Linked DNA regions of Homo sapiens: all the other regions are linked to region 3. The links come from fine-mapping of genetic effects on gene expression. A gene starts in region 3. Each other region holds a variant in brackets. All regions are shown on one strand. Distances are between the middles of the regions.

Region 1 (8,101 bases), 330 kb before region 3:
AGCTTACTTCATTGTAAGAATACGGTATATAATACACAAAACGTACAGAATGTACAGGACAATGTTGATCACCTGTTTATGTTATTGGTAAGGCATCCGGTCAACAGTAGGCTCTCAGCCATGTCAACCTAAAGAAAGATGCTGAGGCAAAGTTAGTACATGTGGAGGGTTTATTTGGGCCACGTGTGAGGACGGCATCCTGGGGGACGTAGATTCAGGTGGCTCCGAACATATGCTCCAGTTAGCAGCAGTTACAGTGGGTTTGAAAGAAAGAAAGAAGGGGCAAGTTCCCACACTGGTTCATTAAAATAACATAAGCTATTGACTGGCTGTAGATGGTTCTTTGCATCACAGATTCCAGGAGCATGAAGATAATGGGTGAAGGTCACATTGTCTAACTTGTGTAACATTTCTTGTGATTTTTCAGCCAGCCTGGAAACAACAGGGAAGGAAAGGAAGACAAATGCCTTTAAACAGTTGGCCCCACATGGGTGCGGCGGGGGAGGCATGATGCAGGTCTCACCCTCGCAGCTCCGCTGGGGCTGGTGAATACCTCGCGTGGCGCCGACTCCTCTGAGCCACTTTTGTTTCTCAGTGCTTAAGTTTTGGGGGAGTCCAAGGTTATACGTGGATTTTCGGCTGCATGGGGAGTGGGTCACCCTAAACCCTGTATTGCTAAAGGGCCTACCTCATTTCCTCCTGATCTGTGGCTGGAACTAGGATCATGGATTTGGCGTTTTATCCAGGATCCCTGACTCTGACCCCCTGTAATTATTTCCTAAGTAACTAGAGCAATAAGAATATCTTTTAAAGTATTGAGCCTTTTGTCCTTGGTTTCTGAAGTAAATTCTGAAAGATAAAGCTGGAAGAGTCTTTTGTTTACAAGTTCCTTCAAACACACCTGAGTTTATGTTAATGAGGCATTTTTGGAACACCCCTAGATACCGCAGGATGAGGGGGGCTGGTTGCCAGGGGAACCAGCCATGTGCTCAGAGGGTTGGAACTTTGAGCCCCACCCCCAAACCTCCGGGGAGGGAAAGGGGTTGAGGCTTAGGGTGATCAGCAATGGCCCACGAGCTACGCAACCACACCTACATCATGAACTCGTACAGTAACCCAAAGGGACGAGCCTCGGGGACTTCCAGATGGCTGAACACATGCAGGGTCCTGGAGGGTGTTGGGCCCCAAGAGGACCTAGACCGTCTACACCACTTCCCCCATACCTTTCCCCGTCATCTCTTCATCTGTATCCTTGAATAACATTCTTTTTAATAAACTGGTAGGTGTAAGTAAGTGTTTCCCTGAATTCTGTGGGTCCCTCTAGAAAATTAACTGAATCCAAGGAAGAGGTTGTGGGAACCCCGATTTATAGCTGGAGGGTCAAACAGCCTGGGACTTCAGTTGGCATTGGAAGTTGAAGAGAAGGGGTCACGGGGACTGAGCCCTCACCTGGGGGGGTCTGAGGCTGTCTCCAGGTAGATGGTGTTGGGATTGAGTTAGAGGATGCCTGACTGGTGTCTACTCCAGAACTGATGGTTTGCTTGGTGTATGGAGAACAGACCCGCACATTGTGGTGGGAGAGCAGAGGAAAAACAGCCTTTTCTACGTGGGGGCTTCCCTTTTCATCCACGTAGAATTTTTCACAGAACAAAAGTTTCTAATTTTGATGAAGTCCAATTAATTGATATTTTTTGATGTATTTTTTTAATATGCTTTGAGTGTCAACACCCAAGACTACTTCACCTAACCCTAGGACATAAGGATTTTCTTCTAAAAGTTTTATAGTTTTACATTTTACATTTAGAGCTATGTCCTTGTAGGCTGAGTTAGTGTGAGGTTTAAATCAAGGGTTTTGTTTGTTCGTTTTGGCTTATGAATGCCCACATGTTTCTACACTGATTTTGCTGAAAATCCTTCTTCCACTGGTTGCTTCTGGGCCTTGTCAAAAAACCATCTGACCACAGAGTGTGGGTCTGTCTGTTCCTGGACTTTGTTCTAGTCCATTGACCTGTGTGTCTGTCCCTCCACCAGTAACATCATCTTGATGACCAGGTCTTAAAATTGGTTAATGTGTTTCCTCTAACTTGTTTTTGGCTATTCTAGTATTTCTGCCTCTGTATATAAATTTTAGAATCAGCTTGCCTATATTTACAAAGAATCTAGCTGAGATTTTCATAGCAAGTGAGTTAAACTTACAAATCAATTTGTATAGAGTTGACATCTTTACTATAGAGTTTTCCAATTCACTATTTGTCCCGTCCTCCACTGAAATTTTCCTCGATTTCCTTCATTCACATGTTGTAGTTTTTAGTGTACAAGTCCTGTACATTTGTTAGATTTATACCTAAGTATTTGTTTTAGGCAATTATACATGCTACTGTGTGTTTAATTTTGGTTTCTAATTGTCCACTGCTAACTTACAGAAACGTATACCTAAAAGTTACAGGACTGTTCAGACTCTATTTCGTCTTGGTATAATGCAACTTACAGCTCTGGCAGCTTGCGATTTTTGAGGAATTGATCCACTTGCTCTAAATTATCCAGTTTGTGTGTTTAGGGTTATTTGATAGTATTCTCTGTGATGCGTTTAGTATCTGTGAGGCCTGTAGTAATATCCCCTTTCATTTTAGGTATTAGTTATTTGGGTCCTCTCACTTTTTTATCAGTCTTGGTTTATTATCTATTTTATTAATCTCTTCAAAGAGCCAGCTCTTGGTTTGACTTTCCTCTATTGTTTTTCTGTTTTCAATTTCATTCATTTCTGCCTGATTGTTTCTTTTTTCTGCTTGCTTTGGGGTGTCATTTTGCTCTTCCTTTGTGGTTTTTCTAATGTGGAAGCTGAGTTTTTTGTCCTCAGACCTCTCTTCTCTTTTAATGTAAGCATGTAGAGCCAGCAACTTCCCTTTACATACTACATCAGCCGCATTGTACAGGTTTTCAATGTACTTCCATTTTCATTTTGGTCAATACATTTTAGATTTCTTTTGAGACTTCCTCTTTGGCCCATGGATTATTGGGAAGTGGGTGGGGCTGCTGCTGATTGCTGGGGTTGTGGAGAAGACTCACCAGGCCCTTGACATGTGGGAGCAATGGCGTCTTCCTCCTTGTCTCTAGACTCAACTGGATTCGTACTGAGAAGGGCATTCTGAGAAACTTCACTCCCAGCTTCAACTGGTCCAACATAGCAAAATCAGATTTTTTAAAAAATAGAAGGAAGTAAATTAACTAAGAAAAATACAGAAAAATTTCCTAGAACCAAAACGTACGAGTGACCTGATTAGAAGGGCTCACCTGGTGTTGCGTGCAGGAAATGAGACCTGCATCCGGGTTCACGGTCGGGATGCTTCAGAGCCCAAGCACAGTCAGAGGGAGGAACACCAAGGAGCAGGAATCGAAGAGCCCGGAATTCCTCACTCACAGCAGCGGAATCCAGGAGACACCAGGACACTAGTTTCAGATTTCTCACAGAAAGGATTTTGAACTAAGAATTTTATGCCTCACCAAAGTGTCAATCACGTGCAGAGATATAACAACCTTTTCATATTCAGATTCAACATATCCATCTCCGATAAAACCTTCCTCGGGGCTTTGCTGGAGCCAGTCCCTAAAATTAGGAAGCAAACTGAGGAAGGTGTGAGATGGGACTCACAGACTCGCAGCCTGGGGGAGAAGCAGAAGGGACCCCAGGAGGAGGCAGGGGAGTTCAGCCCTGGGAGCCGGGAAAGGAAAGGCCACGCGTGGCTTGTTTTTATAGAAATAAAGGATTTTAGGTACAAACAGCACGTGCTTTTTTAAAATTACGGAATTACTCGGGGAGCAACGGAAAACACCTGATGCCCTCCACGTAACCAGAGGTGGCCCGGGTCGCATGGTGACCACCCACTGCCACCACCTGTGGGAACCTCCAGCCAAGCCCCAGGGCAGGAGGAGCTTGGGAAACGGAAAACAGGAGTGCACATCGGTCGGGATGGAGCGGAAATGCTGGGCACCAAACCCCGGTGATGAGAAGACAGAAACCGCAGGAAGTACTAGAGCGTACGTTTCCATGCTCGTGTGTGACATGGGCAGCGTGAAAACGAGGCTGTTCTGAGGCCTCGTTCCACCCCCCTCGGTCCCAGACTGGAATCAGCCGGCTTCTCCTCTCGGGCGTCACCGTCCTGCCCTGCGTCCAGTGCCTGAACACCTCCATTTCACAGATTCTGTGTGATTTTCTAGTTGTCTGAGGAGGGAGAGTGGTCCAGCTCTTTCACGGTGACCAGAAGTGGGAGTCACCAGCGGTGGGTTTCGAGTTGCACCCCAGACCCCCCGGAGAGCCTGAGGATTGGGGCGTTGCTCGCTCCCCACTGTAGCTGCGTTCCAGATACCCATGAGTGCTTTTAAACAAAGAAAAGTTTTTTTTTGTTGAAAATGTTAAGTACACCAAGGGGTAGAGACCACTGTCACATAACGGTACTCACCCCCCTCCCAACACTGAGCACCCGGAGTCTTTCGAAGCAACCCCAGACCCGACCTCAGTCACTCCTGAATACTCCGGTGGGTGGGGGGTGTTACTGTTCATGGGGTTCCATCCTCAAGCCGTTTTAAAGTCACGGATGCAAACACGGTCCGTGTCGGGGCGGCGCCGCAGCTGTCCTTATTCACGCAGGTTCCGACTTCGCGGCCTGTAAGCCCCTTTCCTCTTGCTTTCGGGCCTCCGTTCATGGGTGTCCTCGATCTTTCCTTCTAATAGAGAATACGTTTCCCAGTGTTCCTCTGCCTC[C/G]CTTTGTTCAGTGGGCCAGCGTTTGGCTTACGTTAAGTTTCTCCCCTGCCGTGGCCTTCGAGGTGGGCACTGCGGGTCAGCAGGACTGTCTTCCGGCCTCCCTGCCTGGGGCCACCTGGGGCCCTGACTCCCTGACGGTGGCCTCCGGCCCCTGGGAGGATGGAGTTCGGCTCTGTCCCGGGGCCCTCGTTCCCCATAAGTGGCCTCCAGCCCCTGGGAGGATGGAATCCGGCTCTGTCCCGGGGCCCTGACTCTCCATAGTGGCCTCTGGTCCCTGGGAGGATGGAGTTCGGCTCTGTCCCGGGGCCCTGACTCTCCATAGTGGCCTCTGGTCCCTGGGAGGATGGAGTCCGGCTCTGTCCCGGGGCCCTGACTCTCCATAGTGGCCTCTGGTCCCTGGGAGGATGGAGTCCGGCTCTGTCCCGGGGCCCTGACTCTCCATAGTGGCCTCTGGTCCCTGGGAGGATGGAGTCCGGCTCTGTCCCGGGGCCCTGACTCTCCATAGTGGCCTCTGGTCCCTGGGAGGATGGAGTCCGGCTCTGTCCCGGGGCCCTTGTTCCCCATAAGTGGCCTCCGGCCCCTGGGAGGATGGAGTCGGGCTCTGTCCTGGGGCCCTGTTTCCCCATAAGTGGCCTCTGGCCCCTGGGAGGATGGAGTCCGGCTCTGTCCCGGGGCCCTGACTCTCCATAGTGGCCTCTGGTCCCTGGGAGGATGGAGTCCGGCTCTGTCCCGGGGCCCTGACTCTCCATAGTGGCCTCTGGTCCCTGGGAGGATGGAGTCCGGCTCTGTCCCGGGGCCCTCGTTCCCCATAAGTGGCCTCCAGCCCCTGGGAGGATGGAATCCGGCTCTGTCCTGGGGCCCTGTTTCCCCATAAGTGGCCTCTGGTCCCTGGGAGGATGGAGTCCGGCTCTGTCCCGGGGCCCTGACTCTCCATAGTGGCCTCTGGTCCCTGGGAGGATGGAGTCTGGCTCTGTCCCGGGGCCCTCGTTCCCCATAAGTGGCCTCCGGCCCCTGGGAGGATGGAGTCGGGCTCTGTCCTGGGGCCCTGTTTCCCCATAAGTGGCCTCCAGCCCCTGGGAGGATGGAGTCCGGCTCTGTCCCGGGGCCCTCGTTCCCCATAAGTGGCCTCCAGCCCCTGGGAGGATGGAGTCCGGCTCTGTCCCGGGGCCCTGACTCTCCATAGTGGCCTCTGGTCCCTGGGAGGATGGAGTCTGGCTCTGTCCCGGGGCCCTCGTTCCCCATAAGTGGCCTCCGGCCCCTGGGAGGATGGAGTCGGGCTCTGTCCTGGGGCCCTGTTTCCCCATAAGTGGCCTCCGGCCCCTGGGAGGATGGAGTCCGGCTCTGTCCCGGGGCCCTCGTTCCCCATAGTGGCCTCTGGTCCCTGGGAGGATGGAGTCCGGCTCTGTCCCGGGGCCCTGACTCTCCATAGTGGCCTCTGGTCCCTGGGAGGATGGAGTCCGGCTCTGTCCCGGGGCCCTGACTCTCCATAGTGGCCTCTGGTCCCTGGGAGGATGGAGTCCGGCTCTGTCCCGGGGCCCTGACTCTCCATAGTGGCCTCTGGTCCCTGGGAGGATGGAGTCCGGCTCTGTCCCGGGGCCCTGACTCTCCATAGTGGCCTCTGGTCCCTGGGAGGATGGAGTTCGGCTCTGTCCCGGGGCCCTCGTTCCCCATAAGTGGCCTCCAGCCCCTGGGAGGATGGAGTCCGGCTCTGTCCCGGGGCCCTGACTCTCCATAGTGGCCTCTGGTCCCTGGGAGGATGGAGTCCGGCTCTGTCCCGGGGCCCTGACTCTCCATAGTGGCCTCTGGTCCCTGGGAGGATGGAGTCCGGCTCTGTCCCGGGGCCCTCGTTCCCCATAAGTGGCCTCCGGCCCCTGGGAGGATGGAGTCCGGCTCTGTCCCGGGGCCCTGACTCTCCATAGTGGCCTCTGGTCCCTGGGAGGATGGAGTCCGGCTCTGTCCCGGGGCCCTCGTTCCCCATAAGTGGCCTCCGGCCCCTGGGAGGATGGAGTCCGGCTCTGTCCCGGGGCCCTGACTCTCCATAGTGGCCTCTGGTCCCTGGGAGGATGGAGTCGGGCTCTGTCCTGGGGCCCTGGTTCCCCATAAGTGGCCTCCGGCCCCTGGGAGGATGGAGTCCGGCTCTGTCCCGGGGCCCTGACTCTCCATAGTGGCCTCCGGTCCCTGGGAGGATGGAGTCCGGCTCTGTCCTGGGGCCCTGGTTCCCCATAAGTGGCCTCCGGCCCCTGGGAGGATGGAGTCGGGCTCTGTCCCAGCCCCACGTTCTTTGCCTGCTTCCACCTGTGCCTGTCTGCGCCGTGCAGACACTGGTTCCCAGCCTGCCTGTGCCTCCTGCCGCTGTTCCAAGCTGTGGGGGGGACCCAGCTCACCCCCAGGGTCCAGTTCAGACTGGAAGGGAATGTGGCCCCCCACACCCTCAGCCTTGATGTGGGGCCAGGGACACCCGCTGTGGGGGGTGAATGTGCTGATTAGACCCTGGGTGGATCCCCACACACAAGCAGTCAGAGGGTCATTTACAGCCTGAGCTCACTCCGCAAATATGATCAGGATGGGAACAGGCAGCTGGCAGCCTCCTGCCTCACTCCTGTCCCTCACGAGGGGACGCAGCTCTGCCTGACCCCTTGGGGAGGCACCAAGTCCGCCCTGACTCCGCCCCGCCTGAATCTGCTGGCTGCTTTGCGGGCAGCTCCTGAGGGCAGCTGTGTTCTGCTGAGACTGAGCCACCTCTGGGCCCTGGGCCTCTGCTCGAGGCGGCCAGCGTTCAGCCAAGCTCGTCCTTCACCTCAGGGGGCCTGTGTGGTTGTCACGCACAGTGTCCAGGGTCAGCTTGTCAGCGCCGGCCACCCGGGCGGCCTCAGTCAGCACGCGTTCCCCAAACCTGTGGGGCCCACGCTTGGTGCTGAGGGTTGATGAGGAGCCAGGGAGGACCAGGAGAGTGGAAGTGGGACCTTCTGCCAGCTCCGTAGAGGACAGCCTGGAACCGGCTCAGACTGGAGGCAGGGAGGCCCAAGGGGCAGGAGAACTCTCCGAGGGGCAGAAACAGCACTGCAGTGGCAGTCGCCCATGGAGCGTGGAGTGCTGGTCCACGACACCCTCTCGACCCACGGTGAAACGCGCCCCATGGGGCAAGGGGCTGGGCTGCTTGCTGGTCAGTGGCAGGCGGGGTGGGAACACACAGGTACACGGGGCCCACCTGGGTCTCTGCCACTCTCTCCTGTCCACACGGGAGAGGAGTTGAATCCTAAGGCATCTCTTAGCAGCCCCAGCGCCATTGTGGGGCCACTGCCTGAGAGCCCCTGAGCTCCATCCCCTTTGGGTCACCTCTCT
Region 2 (8,091 bases), 36 kb after region 3:
TCTGGACTCCTCCACATCCACACAAGGCCTGAGCTGTGCTGGTTTTCTCTGCAGCATCAACTTCAATCAGGATGCGTCCCTCATCTGCGTATCCAGCGACCACGGCACAGTGCATATTTTTGCAGCTGAAGATCCAAAAAGGAATAAACAGTCCAGGTAGGTGTTAGGATGCCTGCTGGGGAAAAGCCGGGGGATGAGAGGAGTCCCCAGTGTTTCAGTGTGGACGGGACAGGCCCCCCACCCCAGCAGGGTGGTGTGGACAGACCTCATATGCTATCAGCGCTGAAATCTTTTTCATTTAATTTTATATTTGTTGGGGTTTAAAAATCAGTGCAGGCTGGGCACAGTGGCTCATGCCTGTAATCCCAGCACTTTGGGAGGCCGAGGTGGGCAGATCACCTGAGGTCAGGAGTTCGAGACCATCCTGGCTAACATGGTGAAACCCCATCTCTACTAAAAAACAAAAACTAGCCGGGCGTGGTGGCGGGTGCCTGTAGTCCCAGCTACTCGGGAGGCTGAGGCAGGAGAATCGCTTGAAGCCGGGAGGTGGAGGCTGCAGTGAGCCGAGATTGCGCCCCTGCACTCCAGCCTGGGCTACAGAGCGAGACTCCGTCTCAAAAAAAAAAATTTTTTTTTTAAATAAAATTGTACAACAGGCTTTGTCATGCATGGCAAAAAAAAAATTCATTAAAGCTCAAACCATATGAAGGAGCATTTTCGTATTTTCAGCAGCGTATTCTGAGCTTACGCAGGTGATTTTTTTTCCTGTAAACTTTGAACCACCCTTTCTTTTCTTGTCTTCACAGTTTGGCCTCAGCCAGTTTCCTTCCAAAATACTTCAGTTCCAAGTGGAGTTTCTCCAAGTTTCAGGTTCCCTCAGGCTCTCCGTGCATTTGTGCCTTTGGAACAGAGCCAAACGCCGTCATTGGTGAGTGGTCCTTCCTGGAGAGAACGTCCCCACCCGCCCCACCTGGGCTCCATCCACTGAGCGTCAGACCTAACTTCCCATGGACGTCCCAGCACCGCGCTGTGGCACCGATGGCCGCCCAGTTCCCCTTATTTCTCCTGTGGGCTCAGTGTGTCCCGCTTACGGTCTGCACGGCCATTTGGGATGTCTTCAGCCCCCATCCCTCCAGTTTCCCCCAGGAAATCACAGGGACAGGTCTTCCAATGTTTGTATAGATGACCAAGAATGTTTCTTAACCCTGTAGCCAACACCGGGTGATTAGATGCTCACACCAAGACAGTCAGGATTCCCGGCCACGGTGCCGACCGAACGCATTCAGTGGGGACCCTGGGGCCTTTCAGGGCTTTCAGAGCAGCTGCCTGGCTCCAAGAGGCCCTTTGCAGTTCAGCTCAGTGGGACTCGTTGCTTTTAACTTGAGGGAAAGAAACACACAGGTAAAATGGTCTCCTTCTATCCCAGCAATTTGTGCAGACGGCAGCTACTACAAATTCCTGTTCAACCCCAAGGGGGAGTGCATCCGAGATGTCTACGCGCAGTTTCTAGAGATGACCGATGACAAGCTGTGACTCCAGCTGGGGGCGCCACAGCACCCACCACCTGCCGCCTTCAGACTCTCGGGGCTGGTGCCAGTGCCCCAGGGGCCTCCTGGGCCACGGGCTGGAGGGGCTGCCCAGGGACCTTGGTCTCGAAGCCATACGTGGTTGTCTGCTTTCCTAAGGACTCCCATTTCCAGTATTAAAGAGAGAATCATCATCAAGGCACCGTAGGTAACTCAGTGGCTGTGACCAGCTCGACTGGCGGCCACTGGCTGTTCCCATGAGTTCAGCTGTGACGTTAGCTTCAGTGGCTCCGCCGCATCCTCACACTGACGGGGGCTCCATACGGACCTGGGGACTGGGCTGAGAGGGTGGACGAGTTCAGGTTTGTTTTTGCAGCAGATTCCGTCGTTCTTACTGAGTCTGCAGCGGGGGAGTGAACAAGTGTGCAGATGTAAGTTCTTACATGATAAGCAGATTGAATACAACACCAGCAGCTTGCCTTAGAAAAGGAGAAAGGAATTCCTTTTCCCGCCCGAACATGAAGAAAAATGACCTGACCCTGTAGAGAGAACACAGTGTGAATGTTTCCCCTCGTGTGAGCCCAGCCTGTGGTCTTCTCCGTACCCGCAACGTGGTCATCTGTGCCCGTGACGTCACCTGTGCCCGTGCGTGGCGTCCCCGTCTCCGTTGGGGCCATTAGAATGAGGCAGACACCAGGCCACTCTAGAAGCCGAGCCGTCACACCTCAGGCGTGTGCGGGGCGGGGACGGGGGGTCTCCTGGTTACATTTTGGATTAAACCTGTTTCCCGGTTATGTGTAGGGAACAGCAGAGTGATGCACGAACTTTGAACATTCGTTATGGGGAAAACATCCTTTAACTTCGGGGTCGTCTGCCAGAGCAGGGTCTGGGAGGGTCCATGCAGTTCCCGCTGGTGTGGAGGGAAATGCCCTGGTCTGGCCTCCGAGCCCCCAGGTCCACCGTCTCCCCTCCCCTCATTTGTAAGAATAGCTACACACTAACATTTTGGGAAGGAGAGGCACATAACTTTTTTTAACATTTGGTAACTAGGTTATGGGCTCTACATTGTCAGCTACTTGGGATATATATTTAATTTTCTTAAATTCCCGTTAAACTCTATTTTATGGTTTTGATTTCAGATTGCAAACATGTAAAACCTGCATAGCAGCGAGTTCTCGGTTTTGCCGGTTTCTTTAGTTCTTTACTGTCACTGTCATGTAATCAGCTAATTCTCTGTGGATGTTGCTGTAAAGTATGCATGTTCCTTTCATGTGTATTTAATCATGATGTTTAATTTTGCACACTTATTTGTAATGTTTCTTTTAAATAAAAGTGACTAATTTTGTTGTAGTCTGGACCTGTAATGGGAAGTAGAATTGTGTGTTATGAAGCCAAACACTCTTCCCCTTGCTGTGAGAATCTGGTTGGAGTGTAGGCTTCAGAACAGCCTGTGGGCCTGAAGAGGCGCCGGCCTGTGACAGGACAAGGTGGAAGCCAGGGTCACTGGGTGCGGAGCCTGGAGCTTCACTCCCTGTGTCGGGACAGGACAGCCTGCCCTCCTCATTCCCTGTGTCGGGACAGGACAGCCTGCCCTCCTCACTCCCTGTGTCGGGACGGGGCGGCCTGCCCTCCTCACTCCCTGTGGCGGGACGGGGCGGCCTGCCCTCCTCACTCCCTGTGGCGGGACGGGGCGGCCTGCCCTCCTCACTCCCTGTGGCGGGACGGGGCGGCCTGCCCTCCTCTCTCCCTGTGTCGGGGATGGGACGGCCTGCCCTCCTCTCTCCCTGTGTCGGGACGGGGCGGCCTGCCCTCCTCTCTCCCTGTGCCCCAAGGGCACCTCTGGAGGAGGGAGGGAGGAAATGCATCTGTAGGAGGCCTGTGTGGCTCTGGGAGGTCTGAGGCTCCTGCTGGCCTG[T/C]GGAGGTGGAGGGTGGCTGGCAGCAGCAATGTCCCTGCATGTTGAAGTGGCAGCTTCAAGTGAGCCGGCGTCACCCTGGCTTGTCTAACACTTGAGATCTGACTCTGGGTGGGGGAGTAGGAGCGTAATTACCAGTTGATAAACATGAATCTGGGGGAAATGCATGCAAGAAGGGTGGGTTTTCTCGCAGTGCACGTGAACAGCCTCAGAACTGATGCGGACGGCGGGGCTGTGTCACAGGCCCGTTCACCAGGAACGTGGCGAGGGCCTGCACGGACGTGCCTCATGTGAGGCCCTGGCGGCACCGGCCCTCCCCAGGCATGTGCTTTTTAAAAATCACTGTAGAGCGGCAAGGACACGGTGTCCCTAGGCCGGCGGACTCGGGAGCGCAGCTGCTTTTCAAGTGGAACTGATGGGAAGCGCAGTGTATGGGAAACAAGGCCGGGCTGCTGCCTCCCCCACGAACCTCCTGTGCCCCGGACGTGGGTGCGAAGGGACTCCAGAGTGACTGCCTCAGACGGTGCCTACTCAGCAGCTTTCCTGTCTGATCGTACAGGTGCGTGGGCATGGATGACTCCGGCTGCGTTTCTGGTCTGTCCTCCCTCCCCTGTGGCCCTGGGATGTCTTGCGGGGACAGGCGGCTTGTGCCCTGTGGAACGCAGCCCTGACCCATACCCACCCTGTGTTTGGCGTTGATGCCTGTGTGAACCCCTGGCCACCTCCCGCTCCCACCACTGTAGTCGGGGGCGCTGGCCATCTGCAGCCTTCTGTGATCAAAGAGTTTTATATTTGTGTTTTCTTTCTGCAACCAAACCAAGCCCCTGAATGCCAGAGCTCTTTCACGTGACTTAGTCCTCATCTCTCTTCTGTTGTGTCAGAGGCATTTGGTTGATGACATTGTTGAAACTTGTACCAAAATTTTTCTCTTCCAGATGGATCAGAGAATACAATGAAAAAAAAGTTCCTTATAAAATAATAGAAAAATATAAATTTGTAAGCAAAATTGCCCCGTGTTTCTACCTCCAGAGAAGATCACTCTCAGACAACCCCACACCTGAACGTAACATCTATTTTTATTTAAAAAATTGTTTTGGTAGAGACGGGGTTTCTCCTCCACCTCCTGGGCTCAAGCGATCTTCCCACCTTGGCCTCCCAAAGTGCTCGGATTACAGCCACCACGCCTGGCCGCCTTTTTTATTTCAGATACATTTGTCAGTTCTAAAGTTGGTTTCTAATTCGTGGCTGATGACTTGTGTCTGCCCATTTGTACGCGCTCTGTGCGCTTTCAAGTCCTTGTCTGCCGATTCCAGCATCTGGGTCTTCTTGGAGGATGCCTCCTGATTTTCCTTTATTGAGTGGGGACTTGGGGGTGACCCTGCCTGCCGCTAGGAATGGCTGTTGAATTTTGTTAAGTGACTTTTCTGCATCTGTTGTGATGATCACACCTATCTTTTACGCCGTGAACGTGGAGCATCACGTTGATTTTTGAATGTTGAGCCAACCTTGCTGTCCTGTGGGAAAGCCCACTTGGTCACAGTGTGTTATCCTTAAATACTGCTGAATTCGCCAGGCGCGGTGGCTCACGCCTGTAATCCCAGCACTTTGGGAGCCTGAGGTGGGTGGATCACCTGAGGTCAGGAGCTCGAGACCAGCCTGGCCAACATGGTGAAACCCTGTCTCTACTAAAAATACAAAAATTAACCAGGCGTGGTGGCGCGTGCCTGTAGTCCCAGCTACTTGGGAGCGTGAGGCAGGAGAATCAGTTGAACCGGGCAGATGGAGGCTGCAGTGAGCCGAGATCGCAGCACTGCACGCCTGCCTGGGTGACAGAGACTCTATCTCAGGAAAAAAAAAAAAGAATTCTACTAATACTTGGGGATTTTTTTTTTTTTTGGATGTATATGTATAGAGGATTCTTATTTCTAATTTAGCTTGTAATATTCTTGCCGCATTCTGGAATTTCGTATCAGGTTAGTGATTTTGTGGTTTTGGCATTAATTTTAAAATGATTTGTCTTACGCAACATCCACCAAAATGTAGACATACAATGGGTTTTAACAAAAGCAAATGTAGACTTGAGACTGAGGTGGCATCTAGTGAAATGTCATTTCTTTTGTAGCTCTGTTCAAGAGAGACGCCACCGTCTGTAGAGGCCGTGAATCCCCCGACATTTGCTCTGAGCCTCCCACAGACACCTGCGGCCCCATCTTGAGTTGTCCATGCTGGCTGCCAGCCAGAAGCCTGTCATCTGTGTAAGATGTTTCAGATGGTGAGTCTGACGACGCTTCTGGGGCATGCGAGCTGAGGGCTAATTATCTCCTAATCTCTCTCGGGTATGTGGAAAAAACAGGCAAGGATCTGGCCAGATACTGTGGAAAAGGGTGTCCTCCTGACCTTGATAGCAGAGTGTAACTCCAGAAAATCAGCATTTTTCTACCTCAGTTTCAGTATTTGCACAAGGGACTTGAACTTATGTCTCACATTATTTTTACCATTATCAGCATATACGACAGCTGCCTATCCTTTTTTTTTTTGAGACAGGGTCTCACTCCAGGCTGGAGTGTGGTGATGCAATCTCAGCTCACTGCAACCTCTGTCTCCTGGATTCACGTGATCCTCCCACCTCAGCCTCCTGAGTAGCCGGGACTACAGGCGTGCACCACCACGCCCGGCTAATTTTTGTTATTGTTTTGTAGAGACGGTGTCTGTGTTCTCCAGGCTGGTCTTGAACACCTGGCCTGAAGCAGTCCTCCCACCTCAGCCTCCCAAAGTATTGGGATTACAGGTGTGAGCCACCGTGCCCAGCCGTGCTTCTTTTTTTCTTTTTTTTTTTGGCTCTGTCACCCAGGCTGGAGTGCCGGGGTGCAATCAAGGCTCACTGCAGCCTCGCCCTCCTGGGCTCAAGTGATCCTTCTGCTCCAGTTTCCCAAATAGCTAGGACCATAGGCATGCACCACCATGCCTGGCTAATTTCTTTATGTTTTGTTTGTTTGTTTTTGAAACGGAGTTTCGCTTTGTCTCCCAGGCTGGAGTGCAGTGGCTCAACCTCGGCTCACTGCAACTTCCACCTCCCGGGTTCAAGAAATTCTCCTGCCTCCACCTCTCAAGTAGCTGGGATTACAGGTGTGCACCACCACGCCCGGCTAATTTTTTGTATTTTTAGAAGAGATGGGGTTTCACCATGTTGGCCAGGCTGGTCCCAAACTCCTGACCTCAGGTGATCCGCCTGCCTCTGCCTCCCAAAGTGCTGGGATTACAGGTGTGGGCTACTGCACTCAGCCTACCTAGCTAATTCTTAATTTTATGATTTTGTTTTAGAGGTGGGGGTCACCCTGTGTTGTTGCCCAGTTTCGTCTCAAACTCCTGGGCGGAGCTGGGCATGGTGGCTCACGCCTGTAATGCCAGCACTTTGGGAAGCCGAGGTGGGCGGATGACCCGAGGTCAGGAGTTCGGGACTAGCCTGACCGACATGGAGAAACCCCGTCTCTACTAAAAAAATACAAAATGAGCCGGGCGTGGTGGTGCATGACTGCAATCCCAGCTACTTGGGAAGCTGAGGCAGGAGAAGTCGATCGAACCCAGGGGGCGCAGGTTGCAGTGAGCCGAGATTGCGCCATTGCACTCCAGCCTGGGCAACACGAGCGAAACTCCCATCTCAAAAAAAAAAACAAAAAAAACACAAAACACACACACAAAAAAAACTCCTGGGCGGAAGCGATCCTCCTGCCTTGCTCTCCCAAACTGTTACAGGCGGAGTCACCACGCCTGGCCTTAATTTCCTTTTTGATTGTTTATTGCTGGTGCATATAAATACAACTTATTTTTATCTTGATCTCGTACACTACCACACTGCTGAATTCATGTGTCAGGCTCTAGTAGGTTGAGTGTGTGTGTATTCTGTGGAAGTTTCTACACATAATCATTCCATCTGCAAGGAGAGTTTTCACCCCTTCCAATGTAGATGCCTGCGTTTCTTGGTCAATGGCTCTAGCTAAGACTTCCAGTACAGTGCTGACCAGCAGTAGTGAAGGCAGGTATTCTTGTTCCTGATCTGAAAGGAAAAGCTTTCAGTCTTTTACTGCTGAGTATGTATACGGTTAGCTCTGGGTCTCTTTGCATTTTTCCTGCTTGGATTTCGTTGAGCTTATTGGATGTGTAGATTCATGTCTTTATCAGATCAGGGAAGTTTTCATTGATTATTTCCTGAAGTGTGTCTTCTTCTCTTTCTCTGCTTCTGAAATTTCATAATGCTTATGTTGTTATGCTCGATGGTATCCCATAGGCCCCTTATTGTTCACTTTCCCTGCATTCTTCTTCTCTGCTGCTTAGACTGGGTAATTTCACTGACCTACCTTCAAGTTCACGGCTGCTTTCTGATGCCTGCTGAAATCCAAATTCCTTTAGTGAATTTCTTATGTTAGCTATTTTACTTTTCAGGCCTAGACTTTCTTTTTAGTCTCTTTTTATAATTTCTATTTTCTGCTATTTCCAAATGTTTCACACTGTTCATATTTCTTTCTTTTTGGGGCAGAGGGAGGGGCAGTGTCTGGCTCTACTGTTCAGGCTAAACTGCAGTGGTGTGATCACGGTGTACTGAGGCCTTAACTTCCCAGGTTCAAGCAATCTTCCCACCTGAACCTTCGGAGTAGC
Region 3 (8,095 bases):
CCTGGGCTCAGTGGTCCTCCCACCTCGCCCTCCGGAGTAGCTGACTGCAGGTGTGCACCATCACACCTGGCTTTTTTTTTTTTTTTTTTTTTTTTTGGCAACAGGGTCTTCATAAGTTGCCCAGGCTGGTCTCAAACTCCTGGGCTCAAGTGATCCTCCCACCTCAGCCTCCCAAAGTGCTGGGATTCCAGGCGTGAGGATTAAAGGTTCCAGAGTGTCCAGCAATCTTAACATTGCTCCACGTTCCACTACAGAAAGGGGATAAGGGAGATGGGTTTCTTAAAAGGTCCTCTAATGGTTCTATTTGTGAAATGGATCCTTCATGTAACAGTTCATGTGTGTCTGTTTGAATGAACAGTAGTACTGCTACGAATATCAACACCTGTGTGCCCAACACACAGCAGCTGAAGCAGAAGGAGTAGAGTCTTACCTGCCAAGCCCTCGGCGCGGGTTTCAAGGTCTGTTACTGTTGCTGTAATAAACTACCACAGCCCGGGGGCCTGAAACAACAGAAGTGTGTTCCGTCACTGTTCTGGAGTCCAAGTCCAAAATCAGCATCACTGGGCTGAGATCAAGGCGTGGTACCCTCTGGAGGCTCTGGCAGGGTCCTTCCGGCCTCTTCCAGCTTCTGGGGGCCCCGGGCATTCCTTGGCCTGTGGCCACATCACTGCAGTCTCCGTCTCCGTCCCCATGTGGTGTTTTCTGTTGGTCAATCCTTCCTCTGCCTGAAGAAGCATGTGATGGCACTTGGGGACATCCAGACAATTCGGGACAGTCTTCCTGTCTCAGGGCCTCTTTATCAAATCTGCAGAGACCCTTTTTCCAAAGTAAGAGAATACCTTCTTTATTTATTAATTTTTTTTTTTGAGACGGAGTCTGTCTCTCGCCGAGGCTGGAGTGCAATGGCCCGATCTCTGCTCACTGCAACCTCTGCCTTCCGGGTTCAAGCGATTCTCCTGCCTTAGCCTCCCAAGTAGCTGGGATTACAGGTGTCCGTCTGCCACCACGCCCGGCTAATTTTTGTATTTTTAGCAGAGACAGGTTTTTGCCATGTTGGTCAGGCTGGTCTTGAACTCCTGACCTCATGATCCACCCACCCCAGCCTCCCAAAGTGCTGGGATTACAGGTGTGAGTCACTGTGCCCAGCCAGGAATAACACATTTAAAGGTTCCAGAGATGACAATCTGGTATCTTTGAGGGCCATTCTTCAGTCTAATACAAACTATCACAAAGTTAGTGACTTCAAGGAACACACATTTATTTTCTTACAGTTCTGGAGGAATGGGCTAAAATAAAGGTGTCTGTAGGGCTGGTCCCTTCTGGAATCTCCAGGGAGAGTCAATCTCCGGCCTCCTGAGCCTCTAGACAGCAGCATTCCTGGGCTCCCGGCTGCGTCCCTCCAGTCTGCCTCTGTGGTCACACTACAGCCCTCTCTCTCAGCGACCCCCTTCCCTCTTTCCTGTAAGGACCCTCGTGATTCCGCCTGGATCATCCAGGTTAACCTCCCCATCTCAAGGTCCTTGAGGTAGTCACATCTGCAAAGTCCCTGCTGCCATATACAGCAACACATGCACAAGCTCTGAGCACGGGGATGGGGGTGTCGTTGGGGGCTGTTCTTCAGGGTCAACCACACACCCTTCCCCTGTTGCAGATTCTTTTTTTGTTGTTGTTGAGACAGTCTCGCTCTTGTCACCCAGGCTGGAGTGCGGTGGTGCGATCTCAGCTCACTGCAGCCTCCGCCTCCCGGGTTCAAGCGATTCTCCTGGCTCAGCCTCCCGAGTAACTGAGACTACAGGAGCCTGCCACCACGCCCAGATAATTTTTCTATTTTTAGTAGAGATGGGGTTTCACTGTGTTAGCCAGGCTGGTCTCAAACTGCTGACCTCAGGCAATCAGCCCGCCTTGGCCTCCCAAAGTGCTGGGATTACAGGAGTGAGCCACCGCGCCCGGCCTACTGTAGATTCTTCTCTTGCCCCGAGCGGTAACCACCATCTCCAATTCTGTGCAAACCATCCTCCTGGTTTTCTTTATATGTTTATGTGTGTCCAAATATGTTGTATCTTTAAACAATACATCGTTAGGCCAGGTACAGCGGCTCACGCCTGTAATCCCAGCACTTTGGGAGGCTGAGGCAGGCATATCCTTTGAGCCTAGGAGTTCAAGACCAGCCTGGGCAACATGATGAAACCCTGTCTCCACTAAAAATACAAAAAATTAAGCTGGCATAGTGGTGTGTACCTGTAGTTGCAGCTACTCAGGAGGCTGAGGTGGGAGGATCTCCTGAGCCCAGGAGATATATACATATATATATAAATACATATATATGCGTGTGTGTGTGTGTGTGTGTGTATAATTTCTATTCTCTCCACCCCCAGAGGTGAGACTCTGCTTTCTGCCTGCCTTGGAGAAGGGTGGGCGAGATGAGCCGTGTCCCTCACTCCAAGTCACACTTCAGGTCTTCCACGTGGAGACCTCTGAGCTATCAGTGGACGGCGGGATTCCTGGAGCTGCTGGAACAAAGCCCCACAGGCTGGTGGCTTGGACAACAGCCTGTGTTCCTTCCCAGGCTGGGAGGCTCTGGGGAAGAACCGTTCATGCCTCTCCCGGCTCCTGGTGACCCCACGATTCCTGCACTTGCTGACTTAGGGCTGAGCACTCCAGTCCCACTGGCTGCTGTCCCCTGTATCTCCTCCATTCCTGTCTCCTCCAAGGGTGCCGGTCACCAGCTTTAAGGCCCACCCCAAATCCAGGATGATCTTATCTCGAGATCCTTAATTACTTCTGCAATGATTCTTTACCTAAAGAAGCCCCTATTCTCAGGTTCTGGGTGGACCTATCTTTTTTTTTTTTTTTTTTTGCGACAGAGTCTTGCTGTGTTGCCCAGGCTGGAGTGTAGTGGCACAATCTCAGTTCAGTGCAGCCTCAGCCTCAATCTCCTGGGCTCAAGCCATCCTCCCTCCTCAGCCCCCCAGGACACATCTTTAGAGGGTCACCATTCAACGCACTGTGGTGGGCAAGGCTGCTTTGAGTTTCCTGGTTAGGATACAACCAGCGCTGTGTGTGGATGTCCACACATGCCCCCGCCCCCGGCTGTACAGCCACCGGGAGACTGAGTAAAATGTGAACTGAAGGAGGCCCCAAGGGTGGCAAGCAGAGAAATGAAGGGAAATGTCCCTTACCCACGCCTCTCTCCTTCCCCCACGTGACACTTCTCACAGCAGGTACCGGTACGTGTGCACAGAGGAGAACCCAGTGCCCTTCAGGGAAGAGGGTGCTGAGCCCCTGGACCGCACTTAGGTCTCGCCCCAGCTCTGTGATTTGGACCTGGGCCCCCGAGCCCTAGTCACAGCCGGGGCGGCCCAACTCGCTCCGCCATCGGAAGGCTTCTGGTCGCTCTCAGGGAGGAGCCCCTCTCGTATGGGAATCGAGGTGTTCAATGCCCACGATGCGGAGACCGCCTGGCCCGAGTGGGCCAGTGATCTCAGCTTACAGTCCAGCTCCTTCCTCCCCATGGCTAAGAGGTCAGCACCAGCTCAGGCAAGTGGCGAGGGTGGGATGAGGATGACAGACGGGGTGGAGGCAGGTGGCTGCGAGGGGACAGTGTCAGGACCTCCTAGGAGATCAGGTGTGCTGCAGGGAACAGGGAGAGCCTAGGAGGGGACAGGAAAGTGAGGAGGGGGAGTGGAGAGGACTCCCTGGGCAAGAGACACGAGGGCCAGCACTCAGGCCTCCACAGCCATCCACTGCATGAGCCAAGCCCAGGGACAAAGCTCTGTGACCAGGATGCCCCCAGCAGCCTGACCCTAAGAGTTGAGAACTGTGCCCTGTGAGCAATGTGACCTGAGGGTCCCGGAGTCCTGCGGGGGCTGTGCTGTGTGAGGGCCACCTGTCCTTTAGGTGGGGTACTAAGGGGTTGTGTCCTCTATGGGCTGTGTCGTGGGGGGGCTGTGTGTCCTCTGGGGGGCTATGTGTCCTGGGAAGGTCCCTGTGTCCTGGGAAGGTCTCTGTGACCTGGCGGTCTGTGTGTCCTGGGGGGGCTGTGTGTCTTAGGGGGACCTCTGTGTCTTCTGGGGGAATATGTGCCCTGGAAAGGACTCTGTGTACTGGGGGAGGCTGTGTGTCTTAGGGGGGCTGTGTCCTGGGGGGGTTTCTGTGTCCCGGGGGGGCTGTGTGTCCTGGGAGTGCTGTGTCCTGGGGGACCTCTGTGTCCTGGGGGCACTGTGTGTCCTGGGGGGACCTCTGTGTCCTGGAGACTGCGTGTCTTGGGGGTCCTCTGTGTCCTGGGGGGTCTCTGTCCTGGGGACTGTGTGTCTTGGGCACCCTCTGCGTCCTGCAGGAGCTGCGTGTCCTGGGGGGGCTGAGTGACTTGGGGGCCCTCTGTGTCCTGGGGGTCTCTGTCTCCTGAAGGGGGACCCTAGTATTGTGGCGCTTCTGGGCTTGCCTCTCATGAGGGATGATGCACCGGGCCTCAGTTTTGGGTCAGCCTCCTTTACCGGCTCTCCCCCCTTCCTCCGACCGTCAGGTATCCGTGCCAAGCCCTCAACGGGCCATCCTCCTTCCCGCGGCGACCCCGCGCATGACAAGGCCAGACCCTCCCGCGAACGTGCTCTGCGCTCCCGCCTGGCCCCTCCCCGCCCCGCCCCTCCCCCTCCTCCCCGCCCCGCCTCGCTCCGCCCCTCCCCGCCTCCGCCCCGCCCCGCCCGCCCTGCCTCTCCCCGCCTTTCCTCGCCTCGCCCCGCCCCGCCCCGCCCCCTCCTCCCCGCCCCGCCTCGCTCCGCCTCTCCCCGCCTCATCCCGCCCCGCCCGCCCTGCCTCTCCCCGCCTCATCCCGCCCCGCCCGCCCTGCCTCTCCCCGCCTTTCCTCGCCTCGCCTCGCCTCGCCCCGCCCCGCCCCTCCCCGCCCTGCCTCGCCTCGTCTCGCCTCGCTTCGGTTAGATGCGCTCGGCGCTCCATAGGCTCCCTGGTGGGGCGCGGGCGCGCGCACGGACGTCCAGCACGCACGCACGCACGTCCAGCACACACGCACATCCAGCACGCACGCACGTACGTCCGGCACTTCCGGCCGCGGCGGCCTCAGCGCCGGCCCGAAGGGACCAGGCCGCCGTCCCCAGCGAGAGGCATGCAGCGCTGAGGAGCGGCGACCCAGCACGGCGGCGCCATGAACCTCCTGCCGTGTAACCCTCACGGCAACGGGCTGCTCTACGCCGGCTTCAACCAGGACCACGGTGAGGAGGCGCGGCCCTGTCGCCTTGCCCGGCCGGGCCTTCCCGCAGCCCGGGGTCCCCGGCTCTCAGGCCTCTCCTGGGCGCCCCTTTCCGGCCAGGCCTTCCACCCGGGACCCCGGCCCCGCCCGAGCTCCCCTCCGAAGCCCCCGGCCCCGGCCCTCGCCGCTGCTCCCAGCCCGAGCCGGGGTCCGGACCAGGCCCGAACCGGCTCCCACCTTCCTGGCCTTTCGCGCTCCCCCACCCCCCGGGTTGTGACCGCTCCCAGCCGGCCGTCCCGGGCCGAGGTCGAGGTCGGTGGGAGACGGCACAGAACCCCAGCCTCCTGCGCGGACGCCCCTCCCCGCGCGCCACGCCCACTCGGGTTCCCTGGCTCCCTGCGGGCTCCACGGTTATCGGGATTTTCCCCACAGCGTGATTGACGCCCTGCCCAGAACCCCGTTTTGCCCCCTGTTCCTTTCAGGGTCTTTAGTAGGTAGCCCGTGGCTGAGCTGACTTCGCTTGGGTTTACTGGAGCCGCGGAGCCGGCGTCTCCGACGCCTCTGGTGGCGAGTGGCGCGGGTGGGGTGCAGGTCTCACCTTTCCCGTCGGTTTCCATCGGAAAATGTCACTCTCCCCACCCCCACTCCCCGGGATTTTTCTTCGTGTTTGGTGGAGTCAAAGGACTTAAGGGAGGCCTTTGAGGGAAATCTTACTTCTTTTCCCATGTCGGAATCCAGGTGTAAGCACTGGATGATTTAAAGCGCCCAGGGAAGGTGACCTCCTTCCCCGCAGGTGCTTCGGAGCTGCGGGGGATGCGGCCGGGGCGGCGCGGTCGGATTCCCGCGGGAGGCGGGCGGGACCTGGATTCGGATGGTTGCCTCCTCACCTCCCATTTGAAGGGCGCGCTTCCCAAAGGTCCTGATGGGGAGGAAAAGGAATGTCCGTTATTCCGAGACAGGCTTCTGCGAGGCTTTACATGTTGGCTTTGGAAGTTTTGTTTTTGAAGAGAATCCAGGCAGGTGCTGTATGATCCCGTATATGTGAAGACAATTTTATTTATTTATTTATTTCATTTTGAGACGGAGTCTCATTCTGTCGCCCAGCCTGGTGCGATCTCGACTCACTGCAACCTCCTCCTCCCGGGTTCACGCCATTCTCCTGCCTCAGGCTCCTGAGTAGCTGGGATTACAGGCGCCTGCCTCCACGCCCGGCTACTTTTTGTATTTTTAGTAGAGACGGGGTTTCACCATGTTGGCCAGGCTGGTCTCAATCTGACCTCAGGTGATCCACCCGCCTCGGCCTCCCAAAGTGCTGGGATTACAGGCGTGAGCCACTGCGCCCGGCCGGATTACACATATTTGAAAGAACTCCCTCTCAGTGATTTTGATGCCTGATGCCCTGGGACCAGTCAGGCTTCCTGGGCGCTGCCAGCTTCCCCAGGGTTGTGTGCTGGGGTTTCTCCGGAAGAAAGTTTTGCTGAGATGGTAAGGGAGATGCCTAGCCTTCTCAGAGGGTGGTTTCCAACCATCTGGTGTTTGTAATGCCTTCTTTTTAGTGAAGTGTGCTATACCTGTAGAAGGGTGGATATATCATAAGTGTTCAGGTGATGAATTTTCCAAACTACACACCTGTCACTAACAATTAAGAAATTGAATATACCTGGCCACGCTTGATTCCAATAAATGCTCCCTACCTGACTTGTGACATCATAGATTAGTTTTGCCTACTTCTGTACTTTATTTTTGTACTTATTTTTGTTTCTAGCTGTTTTTTTGTTTTGGGTTTTTTTTTTTTTTTTTTTTTTTTGAGACGGAGTTTTCGCTCTTGTTGCCCAGGCTGGAGTGCAATGGCGCGTTCTAGGCTCACTGCAAACTCCGCCTCTCAGGTTCAAGCAATTCTCCTGTCTCAGCCTCCCGAGTAGCTGAGATTACAGGCATGCACCACCATGCCTGGCTAATTTTGTATTTTTAGTAGAGACTGGGTTTCTCCGTGTTGAGTCTGGTCTTGAACTCCTGACCTCAGGTGATCCGCCCACCTCGGCCTCTCAAAGTGCTGGGGTTACAGGCGTGAGCCACGGCGCCAGGCTGTTTCTAGGTTTCTTACTCAACATCATGTTTGTGATTTTTTTTTTCCGTATTGTTGAGTATAGTTGTAGATCTTTTTTTTTTTCTTTTTCCGAGACGGATCTTGCTCTTGCCCAGGCTGGAGTGCTGTGGCGTGATCTCAGCTCACTGCAACCTCTGCCTCCTGGGTTCAAGCGATTCTCCTGCCTCAGGCTCCCGAGTAGTTGGGATTACAGGTGCCCGCCACCGCTCCCGGCTAATTTTTGTATTTTGAATAGAGATGGGGTTTCACCGTGTTAGCCAGGATGGTCTTGATCTCCTGACCCTGTGATCCACCCACCTCGGCTGCCCAAAATGCTGGGATTACAGGTGTGAGCCACCGTGCCCGGCCAGATCATTCTTGATGTACAATGTTCTTTTGTGCAGACATACAACAATTCATATATCCAGTCTACCATGGTTGGGCATTTGGGTACGTTCCAGTTTTTGGCTACCATAAGCATAATATGAGTAATAAGAGTAATGATTAATCTAGAAGATGTCTCTCAGTGACCATATGTTCACATTTCCACAGGCATGTACTTCTATATACCTAGGAGTAGAATTGAGAGTATAGTAGATAGTACAAATAGTTTTCCAAAGTGGTTGTACCACTTTGCCCTCAACTAGCAGGTCTAAGAGTTCCCATGGCTCTACACCCAGCTCACATTTGATGTTTTCTCTTATTTTTGGTCATTTTGGTGGCTGTGTACATCTCTCTGTTGTTTATTTGCATTTTCCTGATTTTGTGTTTCTTGACCACTTGGATATCCTCTTGTGACATGTCTA
Region 4 (8,101 bases), 390 kb after region 3:
AACTTTCTGTGCAGTTCAAATTCGTCCTGTTGTGAAAATGGGAATATGGATAACTTCCCCCAGAGATGTGTCAGCCGATTAGCCCGCCTTACTATGCTAGGAAGGAGAACACATCCCTCACTTGGTCCTTCATGGAAAACACATAGTGCTTGTTGTTTCTCCAGCATGTTGGGTTATTTGGTGGATACCAGGTAATTCCTGTTGTGGTTTTCTTTCTTTGCCAAGGTACGGACATTGCTGCAGGAGAAGAGGTTGCCATCAAGCTTGAATGTGTCAAAACCAAACACCCTCAGCTCCACATTGAGAGCAAAATCTACAAGATGATGCAGGGAGGAGGTAGGTCTTTACCAGTCACAGAGCAACACCAGGGTTCTGTTTGACAAGGGAGAACAGCAACTCAGCATTGCTGGTTAAAATAAACCCAAAACTGGTTCTGGGCAAAAGGGAGGGAAGTGTTCTCCACACCCTGACAAAGCAGTCACAGCTTCCTTCAGAGAGTCTTGGGTCCAGAGACCCTCCCTCAACACAAAGAAACATCTTATGGGCCGGGCATGGTGGCTCACGCCTGGAATCCCAGCACTTTGGGAGGCCAAGATGGGTGGATCATTTGAGGTCAGTAGTTTGAGACTAGCCTGGCCAACGTAGTGAAACCCCGTCTCTACTAAAAATACAAAAATTAGCCAAGTGTGATGGCGTGCACCTGTAATCCCAGCTGTTTGGGAGGCTGAGGCAGGAGAATCGCCTGAGTCTGGGAGGCAGAGGTTGCGGTGAGCCGAGATCACGCCACTGCACTCCAGCCTGGGCGACAGAGTGAGACCCTGTCCCCCCCAAAAAAAAAAAAAATCTTATACCATCTTGTCCTTTTGTTTAAATTTTGCTTCATATTGGGTCATGGTTTCTGAAATCAAGAGTGTGTGTGAATAGGCCAGACGCAGTGGCTCACACCTGTAATCCCAGCACTTTGGGAGGCCGAGGCAGGCGGATCACGAGGTCAGGAGCTCGAGACCATCCTGGCTAACACAGTGAAACCCCGTCTCTACTAAAAATACAAAAAAAGTTAGCCGTTCGTGGTGGCGGGCGCCTGTAGTCCCAGCTACTTGGGAGGCTGAGGCAGGAGAATGGCGTGAACCCGGGAGGCAGAGCTTGCAGTGAGCCCAGATAGCGCCACTGCAGTCCAGCCTGGATGAAAGAGCGAGACTCCGTCTCAAAAAAAAAAAAAAAAAAGATTTTGTGTGAATTTCAATGCATGCTCCCCGTGGTGTCGTGTGCCCCTCAGTGGTCACTGGAGCTGTTGCCAGTGGCACGTGTGTTGCTCAGTGGGGCCTTCCTGATGTGTGATCCCTGAGTGAGGCCTCTGCTCCTTCGCATGCTTTGCTTATAGCTTGGGGGAAGTCCCTTCATACTCTCTGGGCTCGTTTTCTCCGAGCAAAACAAGGGTTTTGAACTTGGCGACCATCATGACCTCTTCCAGCTCAGTTACTGTCCCAGTTCTGCGAGCCCTCAGCCCAGGGCCTTAGGTACCTGGTGTTCCACGGTGGGCCAGGTGTGGAGCAGAGCGCTCCTGTCCTCCCCTCAGAGTCCAGCTCTTGCGAGTTCCCTGGACTTTCAAACAGTTGGGCTGATGGAGCAGGAGGGTATTCTCTGCGGGGATTTCAGAGCCATGAAGCGTGTGTCTCAACAGCAGAGCTTCGGTCTGGCAGGAGCCCTCTTTGGGAACAGAGCTTTTTGTCTGAAGAGTGGCTGTGCCACGTCTGTGGAGCCCTCCCAGTGAGAAGGCTCCGCGGCACATTTGTAGGTGGATGGTTGGGTGAGTCCCCTTGGGCAACTGGCCAAAGGAAAACCTGTTCAGGGCCTCTGTTAGCCCTTTTGTCACGGGAAAGGGAGGACTGTTGATTTGATTCTTTGACATCTTTTCTCAGCACAAGCACGTAATCTGTGCTACTACAAGAAACCGACGTTTCTAAGTTTATGTGACACAAAATATCTTTGGCAGCACCTGTGGTCCTGGGGAACCCGTTACAGAGAGGGGCACCCAGTGTGTCCCATCACGGGCCTCACGTGACCAGAGGAGGCCACAGGAATGAAAAATCCCATCACCAACCCAGGGAAAGCTCAGCAGAGACTCCGCCCTGGGAGCCTGTCTGGCGGCCCTTGGTGGTGGACTGGCTTCTCAAGGGCCTGGAGCCTGCATTGCCTTGAAGGTGTGACGAGCCAATAGAGCAGGGTGGTGCGGGGTGTGGCCTTGGCCTGCGGGAGCCTGGTGCTGGGGTCAAGTAAAACCTGCAAGCTTAAAAACACCTTAAGTTTTTACGAGAGATGTCTCCAGGAGAACTTGCAAGCCAGGGGTACACAAGGGCAAAGGGAAGAAAGCCAGTCCTTAGAAGCCCGGGATGGTCACTGGGGAAGCCAACCCTGAACCAAAAAGTGCTACGTGGTTCCGGACAGGACTTCTCCACTCGGCACTAGTGCCATTTGTAGTGGTGCGTTCTCTGCATGGTAGATGTTGGCAGCACCCCTGCCCCTAGTTGTGATACTCAAAACTTTCTTCAGACAGTGCTGAAGGCCCCTGGCAGGCAAAGTTGCTTCCCCTGTGGCCGCTGGCTTAAGAGAGTAAAGAAGCCTGCACCTTCATGTTCCTGCCCATGGCACCTTCTCTAGGATCCTGGAAACCAAATAGGATTTCAGAAATGGTTTTTCTCCCATTTGGGCTTCGAGCGCATTGCCATGTCCCTGACCATTCCAAAATGTAGGTCAGGTCTTCTGTGTTAAATGCACAGACACCTGGTGGATACTGTCAAGGTTTTGGTTTTTGTTTTTGTTTTTTGTTTTTTGTTTTTGTTTGGAGACAGAGTCTCACTCCGTTGCCCAGGATGGAGTGCAATGGCGCAATCTTGGCCCACTGCAACCTCCGCCTCCTGGGTTCAGGCCATTCTCCTGCCTCAGCCTCTGGAGTAGCTGGGATTACAGGCATGAGCCACCCTGCCTGGCTAATTTTTGTATTTTTAGTAGAGATAGGGCTTCACCACGTTGGCCAGGCTGGTTTTGAACTCCTGATCTCAGGCGATCTGCCCACCTTGGCCTCCCAAAGTGCTGGGATTATAGGCGTGAGCCATCGCGCCCGTCAGATACTGTAAAGATCTAAAGATCTGCATTTTAGAAAACAAATGATGTCCGAGAAGGCAAAAGGCCTAATTCTGGTGGTGGTTCTTGAATTCACTTTGAGACTAAACCGGGGAGTTGACAAATAATGGGAAGAAATTGTTTCATCCAGAAGCCACCAGATCTTGCCACTGCCATTCTTGTGCAGTGTCTGCTATGGATGATGCAGATTGTCCCCTTGTGCAGATTGTCCTGTTATGGGTGGTACAGATTGTCCCCTTGTGCAGTGTTTGCTGTGGGTGGTCCAGATTGTCCTGCTATCTCTGAAAAAAAGGGCAGCAAGCACCACTCATTGCGGTTTTCCTTCCTTTCACGTGAAAGTCAAGTGGTGGTGCCAGGTTCTGATCTTTACGTTTGCTTGATGGATGCTGCCTTCCAGGAGAAAGCTCCACAGCGAGTGCATTCTGTTCTCTGCAGCTTGGGAAGAATGAGCCTTAAAAACACACTGGTCACTGCCCATAGCAGCCCTGGGCAGTGGGTACTGAGCTCTTCAGCCTTATGTTGCAAATGAGGAAACTGGGTTTAGAAGGCTGTGTAACTTCACAGAGGACAGACTTGAACTTGGGCATTCTAGCCCCCCAGGCTACTGCTGAAGCAGCTGTCTGCTCCCAGAGAAGGAAATGGCGGCCACCCTACGTGGCCTTCAGCTGTCAGGAATGTGCCCCAGATGCTCCCACCTGTCCCAAATCTGGTTGGGACAATAGATTCAATACCTGAAATAGTAGAAAGAAACTAAAAGTAGCTATGTTGGTGGAAGATTTGGATAGACACCTAGTTTTTATGAAAACCTACTGGACTGGTGGGCAAAACCTGGGGACAGTTGTAACTGCTCTTTCCAATCCT[A/G]ACATCCCCCAAAAGCAGCCTTAGCTCACTCCCTCCTTGGGGAACCCCTCAGCAAAGGACATTTACTTAGTTCACAGCTGCTTTTCGTCAAGGCTGAGATGGTAGGCATGGTTTGAGGGAGGGAAGAGGGGAGTACGTGTGTAGAACCCGGGCCAGTGGGTGACGGTTCTGTGGCTGAGGGTGGGCGACTGTCTTCCATCATCTTTTTCTTGTGAAATATTGTACAACACCAAAGAATGTATGTAACATGTACGGTATCGAGGACATTAAAATCAACAACCAGGACCCTGCCCTGCCCACCTGAGAGGGAACACTCCCTGTGGAGCCCATTCGCCCGCCCAGCCCCATGTCTGTGCCAGGACCTTGCTCACCTGTTTGTAAGTTTTTGTTGCTTTGTCATCCTACAAGAAACTTTTTTCAAAATCCAAATAATGAAATTATCTAGAAACATTTTAGTTATATAAATCATTTTAGGGTTCAACTGCTGAAAACTTCATGAAAATTTCTATTTGCATTAATGCTCAGTCCCCACATTTATATTGAAACTTTTCACAGATGAGAGTGGAGCATGTCTTCATGTATCTGGCCTTGTCCACCCGATTTTTATCCCCACGCATATGTTTAGCTACCTTCGGGCACCATGAGGGAAAAGTGTTGAGACTACAAATAGCAGCATGAGTGGCCGCTTCCCACCGTGACAGCACCTGGGCAGGGCAGCAGGGTGGCCCTGGATGACTAGCACACTTGGGCGCAGGCAGCCTTGGTTCTCTTTTCAAACCCATTGGCTTCACTTGTTCCTGCAAAATCACCAGTAGCAGTAAGTCCATAGAGCACAAGTGCATTGAGAGGCAAGAGCATGTTGCTTTTACTGTATTTTATTCATTCTCTAATGCCATGGATGACGGGGTACATTGTTACTTACAGCTAACAAAAGGGGTGATTTCTGCTGAGACATTTGGGGGGTAGGGAGGAAAAAGAAACAGGCCAGGTGCAGTGGCTTACATCTGTAGTCTCAGCTACTCTGGAGGCTGAGGCAGGAGGATGGCTAGAGTTCGGGAGGTTAAGGCTGCAGGGAGCTGTGATGGTGCCACTGCCCTCCAGCCTGGGTGACAGCAGGACCCCTGTTAAAGAAAGATGGTGTCAGTAAATACATCATCAGTCACATCAGTCGGTACACCATCAGTCAGTACACCATCAGTCACATCACTCAGTAGACCATCAGTCTCATCACTCAGTACACCATCAGTCACATCAGTCAGTATACCATCAGTCACATCAGTCGGTACACCGTCAGTCAGTACACCATCAGTCACATCAGTCAGTACACCATCAGTCACATCAGTCAGTACACCATCAGTCACATCAGTCAGTACACCATCAGTCACGTCACTCAGTACACCATCAGTCACGTCACTCAGTACACCATCAGTCAGTACACCATCAGTCCCATCACTCAGTACACCATCAGTCACATCACTCAGTACACCATCAGTCACATCACTCAGTACACCATCAGTCACATCAGTCAGTACACCATCAGTCACATCACTCAGTACACCATCAGTCAGTACACCATCAGTCACATCACTCAGTACACCATCAGTCACATCACTCAGTACACCATCAGTCAGTACACCATCAGTCACATCAGTCCGTACACCATCAGTCACATCAGTCAGTACACCATCAGTCACATCACTCAGTACACCATCAGTCAATACACTATCAGTCGCATCACTCAGTACACCATCAGTCACATCACTCGGTATACCATCAGTCACATCACTCAGTACACCATCAGTCACATCAGTCAGTACACCATCAGTCACCACTCAGTACACCATCAGTCACATCAGTCAGTACACCATCAGTCACATCACTCAGTACACCATCAGTCACATCAGTCAGTACACCATCAGTCATATCAGTCAGTACACCAGTACACCATCAGTCACATCAGTCAGTACACCATCAGTCACATCAGTCAGTACACCATCAGTCAGTACACCATCAGTCACATCACTCAGTACACCATCAGTCACATCAGTCAGTACACCATCAGTCATATCAGTCAGTACACCATCAGTCAGTACACCATCAGTCACATCACTCAGTACACCATCAGTTCAGATGGATCAGGAGTCCATGCCACATAGTCTTTTGAATACATGAAAGTTTTAGTGTTACGCGATGCAGTCTGTATTCTGTACCTTTCTTTGACCCAGAGTATTCCTGAGATTCTTCCCCATCGATTGCAGCTCTAGGTAATTGATTTTCATTGTTTGATCATCTACATAGCTGTATACAGTAGCTTCGTCTGACTCATACTGCGTTGAGCCCTGGGGAGCTTCTAGCATTTGCTGTTAGGGACAGTGCTTTTGTGCACATCTTGTCCATGTGTCTGGGGCACACATGCCAGCACCTACGTGTGAAGTTGCAGTGGCTGTTGCTTGGTACGTGCAAATGTCCAGTTCTGCAGGATAACGCAGACGTCTGCATATTGATACATATCGATTTTTCCAAGGTGGTTATGTAGATTTCCATTCCCCCCTGCAGTGCAGCCAAGTTTTGTGTAACCCACATCATCCTCAGCCTCACAACACTGTTTTCAGCAGGGCAGAGGGTGAAAAAGGCAGAAATAAAACTGCTGTTACTGGCATGTGATGTGATGTAATTTCCTAAATAGGGATCTCAGAACAGATTAGAGAGTTGAGCAAATTTAAGATCAAAATATAAAATCAATTCATTTTGTTAAACCAACAATTTAATTGGTTACAAAATGTAATTTAAAACATAATGCTTACAGTAGCAAAAAGGTATCTGGGGTAAATTTTAAGACAGATAAGATCTGCATGCAGAAAATATATAAACTTTATTGAAGGACATTTAAGGAAGATTTGCTTAATTCTCCTCTATGTTCAGAGAAAGGAAGATGCCAGGTGTCAGGTCTCCCAAAGTTGCTCTTAACATTCAATGACGTTCCCATCGACATCCAGCCACTTCTCTTTCCTGACAAGGTGACTAGAATTCACTGAGAAGAGTGCAAGTCCAGGATTAATTAAAACACTTGTGAAGAAGAGGGCCATTTGCCCTGCAAACACCAGCACTTACTATAAAGCTGTCGTGATGATACTTTGTGTGGTTCTGGCCACGAGAAGGGCTTAGAAGGAGGACAGCCTAGAACACTGAGCACACCGGGCCTCAGGGGTTTCTAAGTATTTATCATTCTCTGTTAAGAGGAGTCCTGAGTGCTTGGAGAAGCAGCTGATTCCAGGGCTGGGGCAGAAAGAAAGAAGGTGAATCTGGAACACATGGCAGGCATTTGTTATGAGGTACGGGAAAAAGTTTGAAAGGTGATCTGTTGCCTAAATTTGGGACAGTGAAAACTCCAAAATGAGTATTAAGAAGAAGGAACTGTGACTCATTGGAGTGGAGAAAGGGAATTTGGGAATCCGTAATGCTGCATCTAGAGAGAGAAAAGAATTCACAAATCCGTAATAAGGTTGAGTATCTGAAACACCCAAAGTCGGGAACTTTATGAGTGCTAACATGATGCTCAAAGGAGATGCTAATGGGGGCAGTTTGGATTTTCAGATTAGGGATGCTCGACTGTGACGCAGAATGCAACTATTCCCAAATCTGAAAGTAGATGTGTATTTGCATATATATAATATATATATATACACATATGTTCAGGTTTATATATACATTTATGTTTTTTATATAAATATATACATATATATAAAAGACCGAAACATAAATACACATATATATGTATATGCCTCATGCCTTTAACTTTTTTTTTTTTTTTTTTTGAGACGGTCTCATTCTGTCACCCAGGCTGGAGTGCAGTGGTGCAATCACGGCTCACTGCAGTCTCGACTTCCTGGGCCTAAGCCATCCTCCCACCTTAGCCTCCCGAGTAGCTGGGACTGTAGACACACAGCACCATGCCTAGCTAATTTTTAAAATTTTTTTGTAGAGACGGGGGTCTCAGTATGTTTTCTTTCTGGTCTCAAACTTGGACTTAAGTGATCCTCCCACTTCCACCTCCAACGTGCTGGAATTATAGGCCTGAGCCTGGCCAGTTAAAAAACTT

Alleles and levels. Alleles are on the strand shown, and positions count from the first base shown. SD is a standard deviation of normalised expression in the study named. Not every link is listed here.
For the expression in esophagus mucosa of the gene that starts at base 5,055 in region 3, allele G in region 1 goes with a lower level than allele C (small effect, 0.27 SD a copy in GTEx).

The links. PIP is the estimated chance that this variant, and not a neighbour inherited with it, causes the effect.
Region 1: its variant is the best candidate, but not a certain one, in a credible set for the expression of WDR45B in esophagus mucosa (GTEx, PIP 0.77).
Region 2: its variant is the best candidate, but not a certain one, in a credible set for the expression of WDR45B in monocytes (TOPMed, PIP 0.87).
Region 4: its variant is the best candidate, but not a certain one, in a credible set for the expression of WDR45B in tibial nerve (GTEx, PIP 0.84).

What each region holds. Positions count from the first base shown.
Region 1 is chr17:82,973,790-82,981,890 of GRCh38, reverse strand. All of the region lies in intron 6 of QTGAL (queuosine-tRNA galactosyltransferase), which reads left to right. Among named protein-coding and RNA genes, the nearest start is that of QTGAL, 74 kb to the left of the region's middle. RefSeq lists an enhancer at 2,608-3,807. The variant C/G (reference allele first, on the strand shown) is at 4,760.
Region 2 is chr17:82,609,361-82,617,451 of GRCh38, reverse strand. It overlaps WDR45B (WD repeat domain 45B), which reads left to right. Exons shown (of 10, transcript NM_019613.4): 8 at 55-156; 9 at 807-928; 10 at 1,427-2,890. The coding sequence ends at 1,533. Among named protein-coding and RNA genes, the nearest start is that of FOXK2-AS1, 25 kb to the right of the region's middle. The variant T/C (reference allele first, on the strand shown) is at 3,442.
Region 3 is chr17:82,645,404-82,653,498 of GRCh38, reverse strand. WDR45B (WD repeat domain 45B) reads left to right here and starts at 5,055. Exons shown (of 10, transcript NM_019613.4): 1 at 5,055-5,225. The coding sequence starts at 5,159. RefSeq lists enhancers at 4,463-4,532, 4,911-5,410 and silencers at 4,823-4,892, 5,493-5,542, 5,553-5,602.
Region 4 is chr17:82,257,921-82,266,021 of GRCh38, reverse strand. It overlaps CSNK1D (casein kinase 1 delta), which reads left to right. Exons shown (of 9, transcript NM_001893.6): 2 at 226-336. Among named protein-coding and RNA genes, the nearest start is that of CSNK1D, 12 kb to the left of the region's middle. RefSeq lists an enhancer at 1-337. The variant A/G (reference allele first, on the strand shown) is at 4,003.